2 separate regions of the Homo sapiens genome follow, and region 1 is linked to region 2. A link means that fine-mapping ties the variant in region 2 to the expression of a gene that starts in the linked region. Tissue or cell type: testis. Region 2 holds a variant in brackets; the other region holds the start of a gene. All regions are shown on one strand. Distances are between the middles of the regions.

Region 1 (8,187 bases), 26 kb before region 2:
CTTTTGAGAATGATATCACCCCAGCCATGTTTCATTTTGCAATGTTCCTTCTTCAAGAAGCTAAATATCCATAGCCATTCATTCAACCCATCTTCACCCCATGACCACTCTATTTAAAATACCACTGCATTATGGAAATGTCCCTTCACTATTTTCTCCACCTAAGACAGGCTTTTTCATTCACCCTTTGTTTGGTCATGCAACATTTATACAGGCAACCGTATTTGGGATTATTTAAAAATAAACCTTAAGTCATGAAATCATAGAGGTGGGCAAATTAATAAAATATAAGCCCTCCAAATTCATAAAATACAAATTTCTTCATTCAATCGGGTAAACTTGCAAACTAGTGATTTCTGATCATTTTGTAGTAACTCAGGCTGTTTTAATTCTTTCAGGAGATCTCATGTAATTAAGATTTTAATTTATATATCTATATGAATATAAACATACCCATGCATATATCCAGGATTTGTTTTGTATTTTTTGTTTGTTTGTTTGTTTTTGAGATGGAGTTTCACTCTTGTTGCCCAGGCTGGAGTGCAGTGGCACAATCTCAGCTCACCACGACCTCTGCCTCCCGGGTTCAAGCAATTCTCCTGTCTCAGCCTCCAAAGTAGCTGGGATTGCAGAGACCCACCACCATGCCCAGCTAATTTTTTGTATTTTTAGTACAGACGGGGTTTCACCATGTTGGTCAGGCTGGTATTGAACTCCCAACCTCAGGTGATCTGCCTGCCTCGGCCTCCAAAAGTGCTGGGATTACAGGTGTGGACCACCATGCCCGGCATACCCAGGATTATTTATATCAGAAGTGATCTATATGATTTCTACTAGAGATTTTTACCCTTTAGGAAATGTAACAATTTATACTTATTTGTTTAGTAATATGTCTCTCTTAAAAGCATGCTACAAATCAATTAGCTTTGAACCTCGACCAGAGGAAAACACAGGGTCCCTTTCATTTCTGTGATTTATTTGAACCTATCCATCTTCAAAGATGGGCAGACCTAACACTACCATTTTTCATTTCCATTATCCTCAAATTCATGTATATTCTGGTTTGATAAAATTTTTATAGTATAAGATAATGAAACAAAGACAACATAATGCATGCACTTAATGAATCTTCTACCCTACTAGTTATAAAAATAGGAAGACTAACAGCTAACTCTTAGTGAGTGCTATGTGCCAGGATAAGCTCTCTGAACGTATTTTCTCATTTAATCCTCACAACACATGTATATGAGGCAAATAAATTATCTTTTAAAAATAGAACTAGGACTAGCTTTTGTTTATGCCATATTTTTGAGATCCTCACCTGTATCACACGCACAACATTGAAAAAAGAACTGAGAGGAAGCTGGATCTCCCTGAGCCTCAGCTTTCCTATCAGGTTATACAACTGTGCCATTCTTTACTTCTGGAATTTTCCTATGGTTACAAAAAAATGTTGAAAATTTTCTACATCTATAACATTTTGGATGTGCAATTTCCATCTTATTGTGTTCCCTCACATATGGTGTTCTTGCTCAAAGAGCATCGGTATTTTTAACTTGCATAATATTAGTACCTACTTTGAATTATTCTTCATTGACAAGAATCCAAATATCTATCACAAATTAGAAAATTACATGTATTATTTAAGCTAGTGTGTTCATTGATTTTTCAGACAAATTTTTCAGTAGAATCACTGTATTTTACATTTGGAAGAGATCATGAAGACAATATGAAGTTATCTTTTTACAAGTCAAAATCTATAGCGCACAGAGGTTTAAGTGTCTCTCCTAGGTCAATGCTTAGTTAGTAGTAAAAACCACTAATGGCAGCCCAGTGTTTTTTCTGTATAAAAAACATCAAAAGTTATTATAAAATTCATACTTTTATGCGGCACCCTGCAGAGAATGCACCAGGAATAAATAATTGGCACATTATTATACTATCAGTACTGCAATGTGATACTTTGTCTATCAGTTATATAATGCGTTCATGTATCATTGATGTTTTGGTCACAGTTTTTTGTTTTACTGTATGTCTTATGTCTCTAACTAGATTGTGACTTCCCTGTGATTGGCACAAATTCTTTCCTTTTTTTTTTTTTTTTTTTTGAGACTGAGTCTTGCTCTGTCACCCAGGCTGGAGTGCAATGGTGCAATCTTGGCTCACTGCAACCTCTGCCTCCTGGGTTCAAGTGATTCTCCTGCCTCAGCCTCCCGAGTAGCTAGGACTACAGGTGCGTGCCACCACGCCCGGCTAATTTTTGTATTTTTAGTAGAGACGGGGTTTCACTGTGTTAGCCAGGATGGTCTCGATCTCCTGACCTCACGATCTGCCCGCCTTGGCCTCCCAAAGTGCTGGGATTATAGGCGTGAGCCACTGCACCTAGCCCACAATTTCTTTTTTAAATGTTTCTCATAGCTTTTAATAAGTCCTAGACATATGCAAGCTACTTAACAGAGATTGACATAAATATATTTAAAACTAATACCATACCGCTCAAAAGAGAGGCAAATGACTCTAATCCTGTACGGATGCAGGTGAACTTGTCAGTCTGAAAGGATCAAGTTGAGAAAATGCCCTCATTTCTTTAAGCCCTGAGATTGTTCCTGAGGGTAAGTGGTTTTAGGACTTGAAGAGATTGGTGAAGGTTGAAGCAGAAATTAGGGGGAATGATGAGGGAGTTGACTAACCCTCAAGGACATGTGGCAGCATAAGCAGATCAAGTTGATCAATAAAAATAATGGCAAAGCACTTACTAAGCATCGGGCCCTGTTCTCAGTACTCTGCCTGTATTAAATCATCTACACCTCACAACAACCCTAGGTATTTTCCCCATTTTGTGGATGAAAAAAATTGAGGCTCAGAGAGGTTAGATCATTTGCCCAAGTGAACTAGCTAGTTAAGTGGTAAAGCCAGGTTTCAAACACTGACTGCTCCCAGACCCTAAGCTCCTAATCACAGTGTGATGGTTAGGATAAGACCAGATAAGCAGGTGGTGTTTAATACAATGCCTAACAAATGCCTGGTCCCCTAGTGGAAGCTCAATTGCTATTAGTTCCCCCTGCTTTCTGGTTTTCAACCCACTTGCCCCATATTTATTTACTCATCCACTCCTTACTCACCAAACACACACACACACAATGACACATTCACACACACTCCAGTCTTTAACAACGAAGTCCACACTCAGGTATTTAGGTCACTAGGTGTCAAATCTACACATATATTCTTCTTCCTGATAGGATTTCAGGTCACATACATAAAATGAGTCCTAGGACCAACCTCTGCTCTCCCATCACTCTCCAAGGTGAATGTAAACACACACACGAACACTGACTCTGGATTCCAAACATATACGTATGCATAGCCTGATATAAGGCAGAATTCAACTCTGGACTTTTCTTTTTCCGTTATCCAGGGAAATGCGTGAGTTACTATGACAGATGCCAAAGACTTTTGGCTCTGGTAGTGGAAATTGGGAGGCAATGGTGAAATGAAGTAAGAAATTCCAGGGCCAGAAGGTGGATGCAAGTCAGCAACGGCTTTTCCCAGGAGCTTGCTCTTTTTGGGTAAGTGCTACACATACAAGCCCCAACCCGCTGCCTAAGCTACCCTATTCTGAACCCCGCTCAGGCTGCAACAGATGACACACAGCAGGGAGCCTCATTTGCAGGAGATGAGTGTTCCCTTGCTCTATTTTAATCCTGGCAGCCCAGCCGGGGAAGGTTTTGTCAGAAATGGTGGAAAACAGTGACAACCAAGCTTTCTGGAGTAAAGGCTAGGCAGCTCAGGAGCAACCAATCACGACTCGCACAGTATTGTTAACAATACAAGGGAAAACAAGTATCCTTCCCGCCGGCCCGCACTTTTGCAGCCAGCTTGGGCGACCCGTGGCAGCGCTTTGACGACGACCTGCCGGGCTCCGGAGGGCGGGCACGGCGGAGACGGCAGCAGCGCTGCCCCGCAGCTCCGGAAACAGCCCTTCCCCTATCCTCAAGGACCAAATCAGTCCTGATAAACACCCCTCCTGGCCCTACAATGGGAAGGGCAAGTTCAAACGCAGGGCGTCGAGCCCACACGCCTAGAGACGCGGCCAGGCACCCCCGCCCTCCTCGCCGCGCAGTCGCGCACAGTGAGCAACAGTCCAGCACCAACCCGGCTTAACTGCGCCTGCGCACTCCAGGAGTTTCCCCCCACGCCCCTTTCCGAGGACTAGCGCCCGTCGCTTAGCAACGCGCGAGTCACAGTCGCCGCGCTTTGCGCACCCTTTTCCTGGCAGGGCTGCGTCCCTGTTCTTCCCAGGAGGCTCCTCGCTGCCTGGTGCCGTAGAGGCCCATGGAGGAAAAGGAAGATAAGCATCAGTAAGTGCTGGGGTTTGGTGTCTTATTTCCCTTTCCAAAAACTATTTTCCTCCTTCAGGGGGAGGCCGGGATCCAGCATGGACAGTCCAGGCCAAGCTCAGACAGCCCCCTTGCTTCTCTAATTTCCAGTTGGCTGAGCGCTTACAACAATAATTTTTAAAACGCACCGTTTACTGAGCACATACTGTGTGTCAGGGACTTGACTTGCATTACCGGATCTAAAATTCTTGAAGTCATCCACTCCTTCTCACAATTATTAGCAGATTCTGTAGTCTTTACCTTTAAAATTATCCAGAATCTACCACTGCTCATCACTTTCAGTACTGTGCCCACCCAGTCCCAAGTACCAGCTTCTCTTGCCGGGATGCTGCAACAGCCCTCCAGTTGGTGGCTTTGCTTTTCCCTTACCCCTCTGCAGCCTCCTCGACACAGCAGTCAGAGCTATCCGTTTACAGCCCAGGTTAGATCGCCGTTCTCCATCCGACATCGTAGAGTAAAAGCCAAGGCACCTCCAATGGCCTATGGAGTCTACACAACACGCCCCTTACCGTTTCTTGCCTCCCTCTGACAGGACTCTGCTACAGCAAACAGGCCTTTCTGCTATCATCTGCAGTGATAAAGACCAGCATCAGCAGCACCTGGTTGTTAGGAATGCAAATTTTGGGGACTTCCCACCCCCGAGACACACAGAATCAGAAACTCTATGGCTGGGGCTCAATAATCTGGCTTCAACCAAGGCATCCAGGTGATTCTGATGTACCTTAAATTGAGACTATTAATCAAGGTAGTACATACAGCTAGTTAGGAATGATGTGGAGCCAGGGATACCCTCTTCCAAAGCCTGTATTTTTGTCCCTGGAACAATGGTTCTCACACTTGAACGTGCATAAGAATCAGCGAAACAGCTGGTTAAAACACGTTCCTGGGAACCAGCCCCAGAGATTCTGAGTTTGCAGTGCTTTCTAAAAACAAGTAAACAAAAAACTAGGTACATAAAGGAAATGGGCCCCATAAATTTGTATTTCTAACAAGGTCACAATTGATGCCAATGCTGCTACTCCAGTGCCCATACTTTTAGAAGCAGTGCGCTAAGGATGGTTACACTTCTGCTGGGAAGCTTTGGCAGTTACAGTTCACTCTGCTAGAATGCTTTTCCCACAAATATGCACTTAGCTCTCTCTTCCCCTCTTTTTTCATTTGCCACCTTCACAATGCAGCCTCCACCCTACCTGAAAATGCAAACCTACCTCCTACATACATACACTCCCTTTTCCCATTCTCTATTTTATTATTGTCCTTAGCACTTAACAGACTATATAATTTACTTTTTCATCCGCCTTTCCCCATTAGAGTGTAAGCTCTATGAGGGCAGGAATTTTTGTTTTGTCACTGCTTTATCATCAGTGCCTCCAACAGCACCTGGCACGCAACTCAATAAATATCTGTTGAAACAATGAATTATTCAATGTTATTCTCATATCTCTTACAATAGGTATTGTTCCTATCATGCAAATGAGACAAAGGCTCAGATATGGCAGAACTGGGATTCCAGTCCCTGTCTGACTCACTTCAGAGCCCATCAGTGTTTTTATCTGTGCTTTTCTTCTGGCAAGAGATTGCTCGAGTCATATATTTCACACTTATTTATCAACCCGTAGGCATTCATACCACAAGTGCTTAATCAAATGAATTTAACTATATAACAAATAGCCCCAGTCCTTTTCTTCAAGGACTTGATCACTACAAGTGTATATTGTTGGGTGATAACTATGAGAAACAGGTGGAAAAAACTGATGCCAGAAGCCTACAATAATAAATTAATTGACCCCAAAGACTCTACCTTTAAATAAATAATTGTATCTCTGGAAAGGTAATAGAAAAAGGTTTAGAAGTTTTTTACACTTTACCAGTAATCAGTTTTTCCAAATCCTTTGCAGAAAGTAATTTTTGGGAAGCAGGGAACTAGAATCCAAGGATTCTGAATGTTGTTTTTATGTGTACTGGAGGGGTGGTTGAGGGTATTCAAACAAAGCTGGAGTAAACTCCAGCAGATTCACCAGAAATATGTAAATGTTATAATGGCAGTCCATTTACCTTGGATGAACAGGACACTTTTCCTGATGTTGGGCACATGGTGAATTCAACAATGTACACCTTCATGGAACTTATTGACTAGTAAAGGATATTTGTAGTGCTTACTAAAAACAAGTAAACAAAAAACTAGGTACATAAAAAATTGTGGTGTTAATAAAAGAAATGAACAAAGTACTAAAATAGAGAATACATGTGGTAGAGGAAAGAAATCTAGGAAAAGCTGCTGAGGAGATGGTTTTAAGCTGAGACCTAAATATCCTGAGCCAGCTGTGCTGGGAGCTGGGGAAGAGCTGTCCAGGCAGAGCGAACAGCATGTGCAGGTGCCGTGAGGGAAAAGAGATTGATGTGTCCCTGGAACTGACAGAAGGCAGTCTGGTTGGAGGGTCTTGAGTGAAGTCGAAGAGGTTCACTGGGGCAAGTCACACAGGACCTCAGAGCTACAATTAGGAGGCAGTATTTTATTGTAAATGAATGGAAAACTACTTGAGGGTTTTAACTGCAAAATGATGTGGGCGAGGCACAGTGGTTCACGCCTGTAATCCCACCACTTTGGGAGGCCGAGGCTGGCAGATCACCTGAGGTCAGGAGTTAAAGACCACCCTGGCCAACATGACGAAACCCTGTCTCTACTAAAAAAAAATACAAAAATTAGCCGGGCGTGGTGGTGCGCGCCTGTAACCCCAGCTACTCAGGAGGCTGAGGCAGGAGAATCACTTGAACCTGGGAGGCAGAGGTTGCAGTGAGCGGAGATAGCACCACTGCACTCCTGCCTGGGACAGAGTAAGACTCCGTCTCAAAAAGGAAAAAAAGAAAAATGATGTGGTAGAAGAGATGGACCTGGCATTCGTTTGGAGGAAGGCAGGTGTTATACTTTAAGGGCTGTGTATAAGATTAAACGGTGCTACCTGCTTTCTCTGTGAATTTGGAGTTTCATTGACTCACCTGCTGTGGGATCATGGCTTTGATTTTAAAAGCTTCTATGTAAAAAGTATTCAAATTCATATATTTCATTCTTTATTTTTCAAGTATGTGAATTTTAAAAATACTGCCTTTTATAATTTCAATTTCTCCTTATTTGAAAGGAGAAAAATCTGATAAGCTGTTTCTTCCTATACATTTTTAAAATATTTTATTTTAGTAATTTTCGTATTTGTAACAGAGTGCTTACTAGAGGCAAAAAATGAAGAGATTTATTTTGACTGCCACATAGTGTTCTTTTCTTGAAAAGATAAATAATGGTGCTCCTTTGGTAGCTTTAAGTTTGCCAGACAAACTTTTAAAATTAATTGGTTTATCCTTGTCCAGATAGCTGTTTACTAGGTAAACGGGAGAATAAAGCCATTCTCTTGGTAATAAAACTTTTAAAGAAGTTGAGTTAACTATAGCGTGTAACTTATCCACACACGTGAGTACTGCAAACATGATATGGAAGCATAATCCAATCACTACTCTTTCTTTACTCCAAGCAAATAAGAGTTGGTGCACTGCACTGGTATATTATAATGAGTAATCATTATTAACACAAAGCCCTTTATCGCTTATATGATTTAGAATTAGAAAATGGCCTCCTAAATTTTAACAGCACAAACCCTTATAACTATTAATACAGCCTAAATTGTCTTGACTGCTGTTTGTAGTATATTTAAATCTTATTTTACATAATTTTGACTCAATATTTTAATGGTTACTGGGGTAAATGGTTTACTATTTATGTTTTTCAGACAGCATAAAA
Region 2 (8,187 bases):
AGTATTAGTAAAGCATTAAATTTGTTTTATATTGGTTTTGAAAAGAAGCCACTCTATAACCAGTCTTTACTTGTTACACTATAAGAAAAATTGTCTGATATGCTATTTGTATTTAATCTGATCCATGGCTAGGTATTATTGTGATTATTACAGACAGTGTTAACTGACAAACAAAAATTGTTTGTATCTATACAAAACATCCTTACAACATGATGTTTTGAAATATACATTGTGAAGTGGCTAATTAAGATGTTTATTACCTCACATACATTATTTTTATGGTGAGAACACTTAAAATCTATTATTTTAGCAATTTTCAAGAGTACAATACATTAACTATGGTTACCTTGTTGCACAGTCATCCCTCAGTAACCAGGGGATTGGTTTCAGGACCCCTGTGGATACCAAAATCCACAGATGTTCAAGTTCCTTATATAAAGTAGTGTAGTATTTGCATATAACCTACGCACATCTTCCCATATACTTTAATCTCTAGATTACTTAGAATACTTAATACAATGTAAATGCCATGCAAATAGTTGTTATCGTGTTTTTTATTTGTATTATTTTTGTGGTTTATTTTTCCTGAAAAGTTTTAATCCATAGTTGGTTGAATATGTGGATACAGAACCTATGGATAGAGAGCACCAACTGTACATTAGATCTTTTAAACTTACTGTTCCTTTCTAACTGAAATTTCGACTCCTCTGACCAACAAAATCTCCACTGTCCTGCTCCTTCCAGAGGGCTTTTAATGATGACAGATTTTGCTTTACGCAGTTCACTTACTAAAACATCACTATAACTTAAATTCATCTTATGTAGATCTCCTTGCAGTAGGTAGATGTAAACTCTGTTGTCTGAGGATTTTTCAGATGTGGAAATTGCTGTCATCTGATTTTAACCCAATAGAAAGCATAGCATATACATTTCCAGTTTGGGGCAGCTTATTTGCCCCAACTGTTACTGTCACCTTAGGCAGCTGTAATGTTAAACAACCGTCCCTGATTGTTTCGGATGAATACTTGGTCGTGGGGTGAGGCAAGGGCAGGGTGGCAGGGGTGCATAATTCACTTTTAGGGCTCTGAGTCATGTCTATAAAGACGAACCCTGCAGGCCAGGTTAAATAGTGACAGTTCTCTTGAGTTGGTATTTGTGAGACACTCCAAACCCCTTCCGCTTCTTCCAGTAGTTGATAGGCTTCTGGTTTTCATCATAATTGCAGGGCTCTTGGTTTTCAAGGCTTCTGCAGAGGGGAGATTGGGAGTGGGGGGAGGGGGAAACTGCATGAGTTAAAATGTCATCAAACTTGCTTTTATTATGAAGATTAAGCCATTTTTCTTGAATAAATGCTCCTTAGATTATTGCATGCCTTTCGTTAATCTCCAGAGTTCTAAAAAAGTTGATTTTGATGACTTTTGCCAGTGTATTCATTGCTTTTGTGGAGGAGCAGCTTTTTCAAAGGTCCTTAACTCTGAAATTACCACTGATGTTCTGTCCCATTAGTTCCCACGTTACAAATATCTCCTTCCAATCTGCCATCTCTATTAGCTTTGCCCATGGTGTCTTTCATCGAGCAGTTCTCCTATGTTTTTTAATATAATCAAGTTTTTACCTTATGGGTTGTGTACTGGCTGTTTTAAGAAGGGTTTTTCCTACCCTTAGGTAAAGAAAGTTTTCTCCTACATTTTCTTATCTTGATTTTATACTTTTACCTTCCATAATTAGGTCTTTAATCTTAGAGTCCACCATGCGCGCACTATTAAGTAGGGAATCAATTCCACTTTCCAGCATAGAGTGAACCACTTTTCTGAAAACCATTTATAAAATAATCTGCACTTTTCCCATTTACTTATAGGACCTCCTTAATTTTATGTTAAGATTCCATATATAAATGAGTTTGTCTGCAAGCTCTCTGTTACGTTACTCAGGTTAATTTTCAGTTCCTGGATCAGTACCAAAATATTTTAATTATATGGATTTTTAGCTGGTCTTAATATCTGATATGGAAAGTCTCAATTATTCACCCTTCCTTCAGAGCTGATTTATGGGATTTATTTTTCTATTTAAACATTGAAATGTATGACATTGCTCAAAATATCCAGCTAGAATTTTGATTAGGTTGTGGTGACATTATATATTAATTTAGGAAAAAGTCACCATTATAATAAAATGCTATCATCCTATTCAAGAGCATAGAATGTCTATTCAGTTCTACTTTTAGGTCTTTAACAGAATTTAAATTTTTTCTCTATAGAGATCTTGTGAATGCTTTTTTAATTTCTAGAAACTTCATACTATATAGTTTCTGTTTCTACTAAGAATATATGTTATTTTTCATTATATCTTCTAGTAGGTTATCACTATTGTAGAGAAATGCTCTTGATTTTTGATTTTTATACATTTATCCGATGTCTGTTTACTTTGCCATACTCTTATTCTCATAATTGATGGACTCTTGTGGTTTTTCTATTCAGGTAATTATATTACCTACAATTACTTTTTTTTTCCTCCTTTGTAATCATTGTACTACTTTTTTCTTTTTTATAGTATTCACCAGGGGCTCCATTAATGTTAAACAATAGAATTTTAGTTCTGAGTTTTTACAGGTATAATACTTAGAATTTTCTGTTCTTTAATCCTTATCTTTTTCAGGAAACAAAAATTTTTGTTATTTTCTTCCTTATATATCAGACATCCTCTTTGATTTATTTCTAGTCTTGAATTCTTCCTCTAGTTTTTCAAAGTAGGTCTGTTTTGGGGGGAAATCATCTGAGGCCTTCCTTTCCTTCCCATGTTTTTGAAATTTTGGCTTCACAGTTAAATGAAAATTTGGTTGGATATAAAAACTCTAGGCTTAAAGTGCTTTTCCTTTTAATATTAAAAAAATTAATTATCTTGTGTCCAATGTTGCTATTGAGAAATTTGATATTAACCTGTTGTTACTCCTTCATAATTTACCTCTTTGAAAGCATTTATAATTTTTCTTTGTCCCAGATGATGTTAAATTTCTCTATTAAATGTCTTAGATGCGAGTTTTTCCTTTATCTGTACTGCAAGATCGAGAGGAGAGTGAGAAACCCAACTAGGGTGTAAAATTTAAGGAGGCACTCACTCCCAGGGTCATGCAAGTGCCTCCTTAAAGTTTTGCATCCTTTGTGTCTCATTGCCTCATTTTTCTCCTGCCCCTGCTACCTGTTTGGTATTCTGTGAGCTCTTTCAATCTGAGGTGTTTGAGCTTTCTTTAATTCTTGGATATATATCATCATCATTTTCTCAAATATTTCCTTCCCTTCCCTCTATTTCTTCTTAGTTCTGGTGTTGATACTTCCACCTTCCATGTCTCTGAGCTTTTCTTTATTTCTTTATCCTTTCCTGCTGCCTTCTGGGACAGCTTCTCAGTCTGATTTTCTAGTTCATGATTCTTGTTGTCTAGACCATGTATTTTTTTGTTTCAACTGTTATATTTTTTATTTCTAACATTTTTTGTTATTCCTTTTTATGACCTGTTCTTGTTCGTATTAACAATACTTTGTTCTGTATCTTTGAGGATATTTGTTATGCTTATTTTAAATTCTTGGTATATTGGTTCTGATAATTCTCCTTCACACAGTATATGTTTTAAAATTTTCTTTTATGGTCAAATTTATGGTAGATCATATTCCCCTAGGGGAATCAGTAGGCCTGTGCAGACAAAGGCTGAAGACCAGGGTCTGGTTTGTATGTCTCCCACTAAATTTGAGGAAAGAAAATGAGGCTCAGGCCAGAGAGCTTCTGGTATCACAAAACCTATTTAGACCATTGTTAATTACTGTCACTCTACTAGGCTGGTCATGTAGTCAGGAATCCACCCTACCACCCTTAAACTGTTAAAAAAAAAAAAAAAAAGGCATCACTGAGATAAGTCAGTATCTTGATGTTTTTAATTCACCAGCATTGACGGTTGCTGGGGGAATGTTGGAGGAAGAAATGCCCAAGGGGGCAACATGTACCCATTTTCATCAGCTCGTTATCCTGGAGGGACTTCTGCGCGCTTCTGCTATTACTGTATTGACAACAACTGGCTAGGCAGTTGCTGCCAGTTTCTGTGGCCCTGGGCAAGCATGATCTTCCCAAGGCAATGTGAGGGAAAGTCAAGAGCAGATTTTAAAAGCTCTCCCACAACTTATTCTTCTTGGCTACATCTGACCTTCCTACCCTCCAGTCCAAATTGCCACCAACCCTTCGTACCAGTTCACTAAAGCCTTTGGGTTTCTCACAGTTTTTTTTTGGTAGCTCCGGTTCCTGCTTCCTTTTCCCTTCCATGGTTTCCCCTTTTGTCAAGATACAAAAGAGCTGGCCCTTTGCTAACTTTGAAGACTCCATAATTTGACCCTAGCATCCTAGAGACTTCACAAACACTGCCCTTAATTTTCACAATTCAAAAAGCAAATTATTGTTTTCTTCATTTTAGAGAGGAGGAAATAGAATTTCAATGAAGTTCAGTGATTTATTTCAAAGTCACACAACTAGGAAATGTGGTAAAGCCAGAATTTGAAAACATGTCTATTTTATT[A/C]CCAAATGCATGCTTTGGATACTTCATTACCACCACCTAATTAATGCCTAAATTTAGAGCCGCTTCATTCTGTCTATACACGAAGTTATGAAACTGTGTCCGCACATACTAATGTTCTGTGAGTTGGACCATGATATTCATAAAAAAAATGGTCATCTTTTCCCACTTGGTGGAAAAAAATATAAATTATAGATAGAATTTTCTCAGTGTCATGCTTATTAAATCTTTGCACTACTGTTTTCTGTTTTCTAGCAAGTTCTAAAAGAAAGGTAATGATTAAGTAGAAAATGAGTTTTGAGCAGTTGATTGCAATTAGAAATCAAGAAAATGTTAACAGTTAACTTTTTTTATACTGCTAACTGGGAAAAGATTGCCATTTTGTAACATGTAATGTATAAGTATTTGAATATTAGTCATGCTTGCTAATAAAATTAGTTTATAACAATGTCTGAATATCAAAGTGAATTCATGAATGCTTAATACATGTAAATTTACTAACATTTTTTCTTATGTATTCCTCTAATTTTAAAGGTGTGATTTTTAAAAGTTAAATTTTATTTTTTAACAGTTGATATAAGCATATGGCACAAAATTCAAATGGTACAAAAAGATATACAGTGAAAACTGAATCTACTTCTCCCCACCTCTGTCCTCCAGTCACCCAGTTCTCTTTCCCTACAGTCACCACTGTTACCAGTTTGTTACATAGCATTTCACAGATATGTTCGTTGTACATAAACTCTTACGTACTTTTTTTTTTTTTTTTTGAGACACAGTCTTGCTCTGTCACCCAGGCTGGAGTGCAGTGGCGCGATTTTGGCTCACTGGAACCTCTGCCTCCCAGGTTCAAGTGATTCTCCAGCCTCACCCTCCTGAGTAGCTGGGACTATAGGCGTTCACCACCACGCCCAGCTAATTTTTTTTTTTTTTGTATTTTTAGTAGAGACGGGGTTTTCACCATGTTGGCCAGGATGGTCTCGATCTCTTGACCTTGTGATCTGCCTGCCTCTGCCTCCCAAAGTGCTGGGATTACAGGCGTGGGCTACTGCGCCCAGCCACATACATATTTTTTAAGGGAGAAATTTTTGTCCTTGATAGAATTTTACTTCACTAAACTTTTTTTATTGCCAGCAACAGTACTGAAAGTTGCTCTGATCTTTAAATAACCTTCTCTGCTGAAAGTAAAACTGAGTTTTAAAAATTATTTAAGATGTTAAACATACATGGAGCACAGACCAATATAATGAACTCATATACTCATCACCCAGATTGAAAGATTATTTAGAAGTGATTTTTAAAGGATTTCATACTCTTGCAAATTTTTCAGAACCCCTGTTATTGGGCGAAATGAAAAGAATTATGTGTTCAACTACAACTGCAGCAGCCCTAGAGTCTTCCAATTCCATTAGTGCTAGCTTCGGCATACAATTTCTACCCTGTGGCCACAGCCACTGGCCAAACTATAGATTCAACATAGAATTTCTCATACTCTTTCTAGTCGTGAAAAGTTAACAAATTATAGTTATGTTTTCCCTAAAATGTATTGGTATCTGTGTAAAAAGCATATCTAACAATTTTTTTTTTTTTCCTTAATGAGACAAGATCTCTCTTTCGCCCAGGCTGAAGCACAGTGGTGCAGTCATGGCTCACTGCAGCCTTGAACTTTTGGGCTCAAGCGATCCTCCCACCTCAGCCTTCCAAACAGCTGGGATTATAGGCACATGCCACCACGCCTGGCTTATTTTTTGTAGAGATGGGGTTTCACCATGTTCCCCAGGCTAGTCCTCAAACTCCTGGGCTCAAGCAATCCTCCTGTCTTGGCCTCCTCCCAGGGCATGCTGGGATTACAGGAATGAGCCACCATGCCTGACCATATTGTTGTATTAATATTAATTTTAGTTTTAAAAATTACTAATAATTCCACACGTGGGGCTAATTTGGTTGTTTTGATTTGGCTCTTTTCATGAAGAAAGAATGGTGAATCCATTCTATTTATTATTTAGATTGTGTAAATAATCTTGCATACTTCAAGAATTTAGTTTTGTTACCATATTTTATATTATTAATACTGATTATATGTCCATAAACAAATCTAATTTTTTGTCCTGACTTCACAAAATCTTTTTTTTAGTACCACTTGCCTCTCCTGGTACATCAGCAGAACTTCAAAACAATTTTATAGAATACATCTCTTTTATACATCAATATGATGCCAGAAAAACTCCGAATGAGCCTCTCCAGGGAAAGGTGAGGCAGTATTTAGAATTATTTAATACTTTAAGACAGAGTAGATTTGTAGAACTTTAAGCTTTTTCAAGTCATAATTATCTTTCTGTCTATTTAAACAAACTACTTCAGTTATTAATAGGATAGAATGTTAGCCACATACCATAGTAAAATGTAAGGAATAATACTATCCTGGTATGGTGGTGCCACCTGTAGTCCCAGCTACTCAGGTGGGTGAGGTGGGAGAGTTGCTTGAGCCCAGGAGTTCGAGGCTGCAGTGAGCCGTAATTGCACCACTGCATTCCAGCCTGGGTGACACAATGAAACCTCATCTCAATCAATCAATCCAAACATAATAATTTGAATCAGTCTTTGGAATTTGGTCTACTTAAATTATTGAAATAATTTGTGTAAAATAATATCAAAGCATGCTGGGCACAGTGACTTGACGCCTGTAGTCCCAGCTACTCTGGAAGCTGAGGTAGGAGGATCACTTGAGTTTGAGGCCAGCCTGGGCAACATAGCAAGTCTCATTTCTAATAACAATAATAATAATAATAATAATAATAATAGTAATAATATCAAAGCAGTTTGACAAATGTTTTGATATGCTTAATACATGTGTGTGGCAGGGAGATGCATGTAAGGTTTATAAAGCCAAATAGAAATGTAATTGTCAATTATTGGATTTTTTTCCAACTATAGATGTTTGCTTTCATATTTTATTATTACTTAGCTTTTCATCAGCGTTAATAGGCATTTGGGATGCAATCATAAATTCTTAGGTCTATGAACTGTAGTTTTTGTTGTATCCATAGCAATCTTTAGAGCAAGAAATGAAATTTGATGTGAATAGTCTTAAACAGTCCAAATGATAAAAAAGTTGAGAATGGGAGATGAGCTGCTACTTCTTTGACATTCTGCCTTTTTCCTTCCTGTTCATTTTCTGATGCACCCTATTTTATAATTTAAAAGGTTCACCCATATATGGTGGTGTCTAGTTTGGGACTGAGGTGACACCAATGAAGAGGCAGAGAAGTGCCTGCATCACTGACTAGGACTTGAGCTAACGCACAAATTCAGTTCACAGCTGCATCTTCCAGCAATCTGCGTTCTCCTGGTTAATGTCGACTTTGTTTTCTTTTCCAGAGACACGGAGCTTTTGTACAGAGAGAGATAAAACCAGGCAGTAGGCCAACAGTTCCTAAAGGAGCAGAGGTATTACTGAACACTCCAGGGTCACGTTCATCAGAACAGTCCAAAAAAACAGAGAAAGGAAACTCAGCGGAAAGCAGAATGATCTCACCAGGTCTCTGCCAACAAAATTCTCAGGAGCTGTTAGAGCCTAAAACTCACTTATCAGAAACAGACGTCAGACAGGCAGCCAAGGCATGCCCCAGCACTCC

What was found. PIP is the estimated chance that this variant, and not a neighbour inherited with it, causes the effect.
Region 1: CIMIP6 starts here. The variant in region 2 is fine-mapped to the expression of CIMIP6 in testis (GTEx, PIP 0.97).

The regions. Positions count from the first base shown.
Region 1 is chr2:54,326,641-54,334,827 of GRCh38, forward strand. It overlaps CIMIP6 (ciliary microtubule inner protein 6), which reads left to right and starts at 4,244. Exons shown (of 5, transcript NM_001100396.2): 1 at 4,244-4,361; 2 at 8,177-8,187. The coding sequence starts at 4,336.
Region 2 is chr2:54,352,273-54,360,459 of GRCh38, forward strand. CIMIP6 (ciliary microtubule inner protein 6) reads left to right here. Exons shown (of 5, transcript NM_001100396.2): 4 at 6,687-6,802; 5 at 7,931-8,187. Among named protein-coding and RNA genes, the nearest start is that of CIMIP6, 25 kb to the left of the region's middle. The variant A/C (reference allele first, on the strand shown) is at 4,556.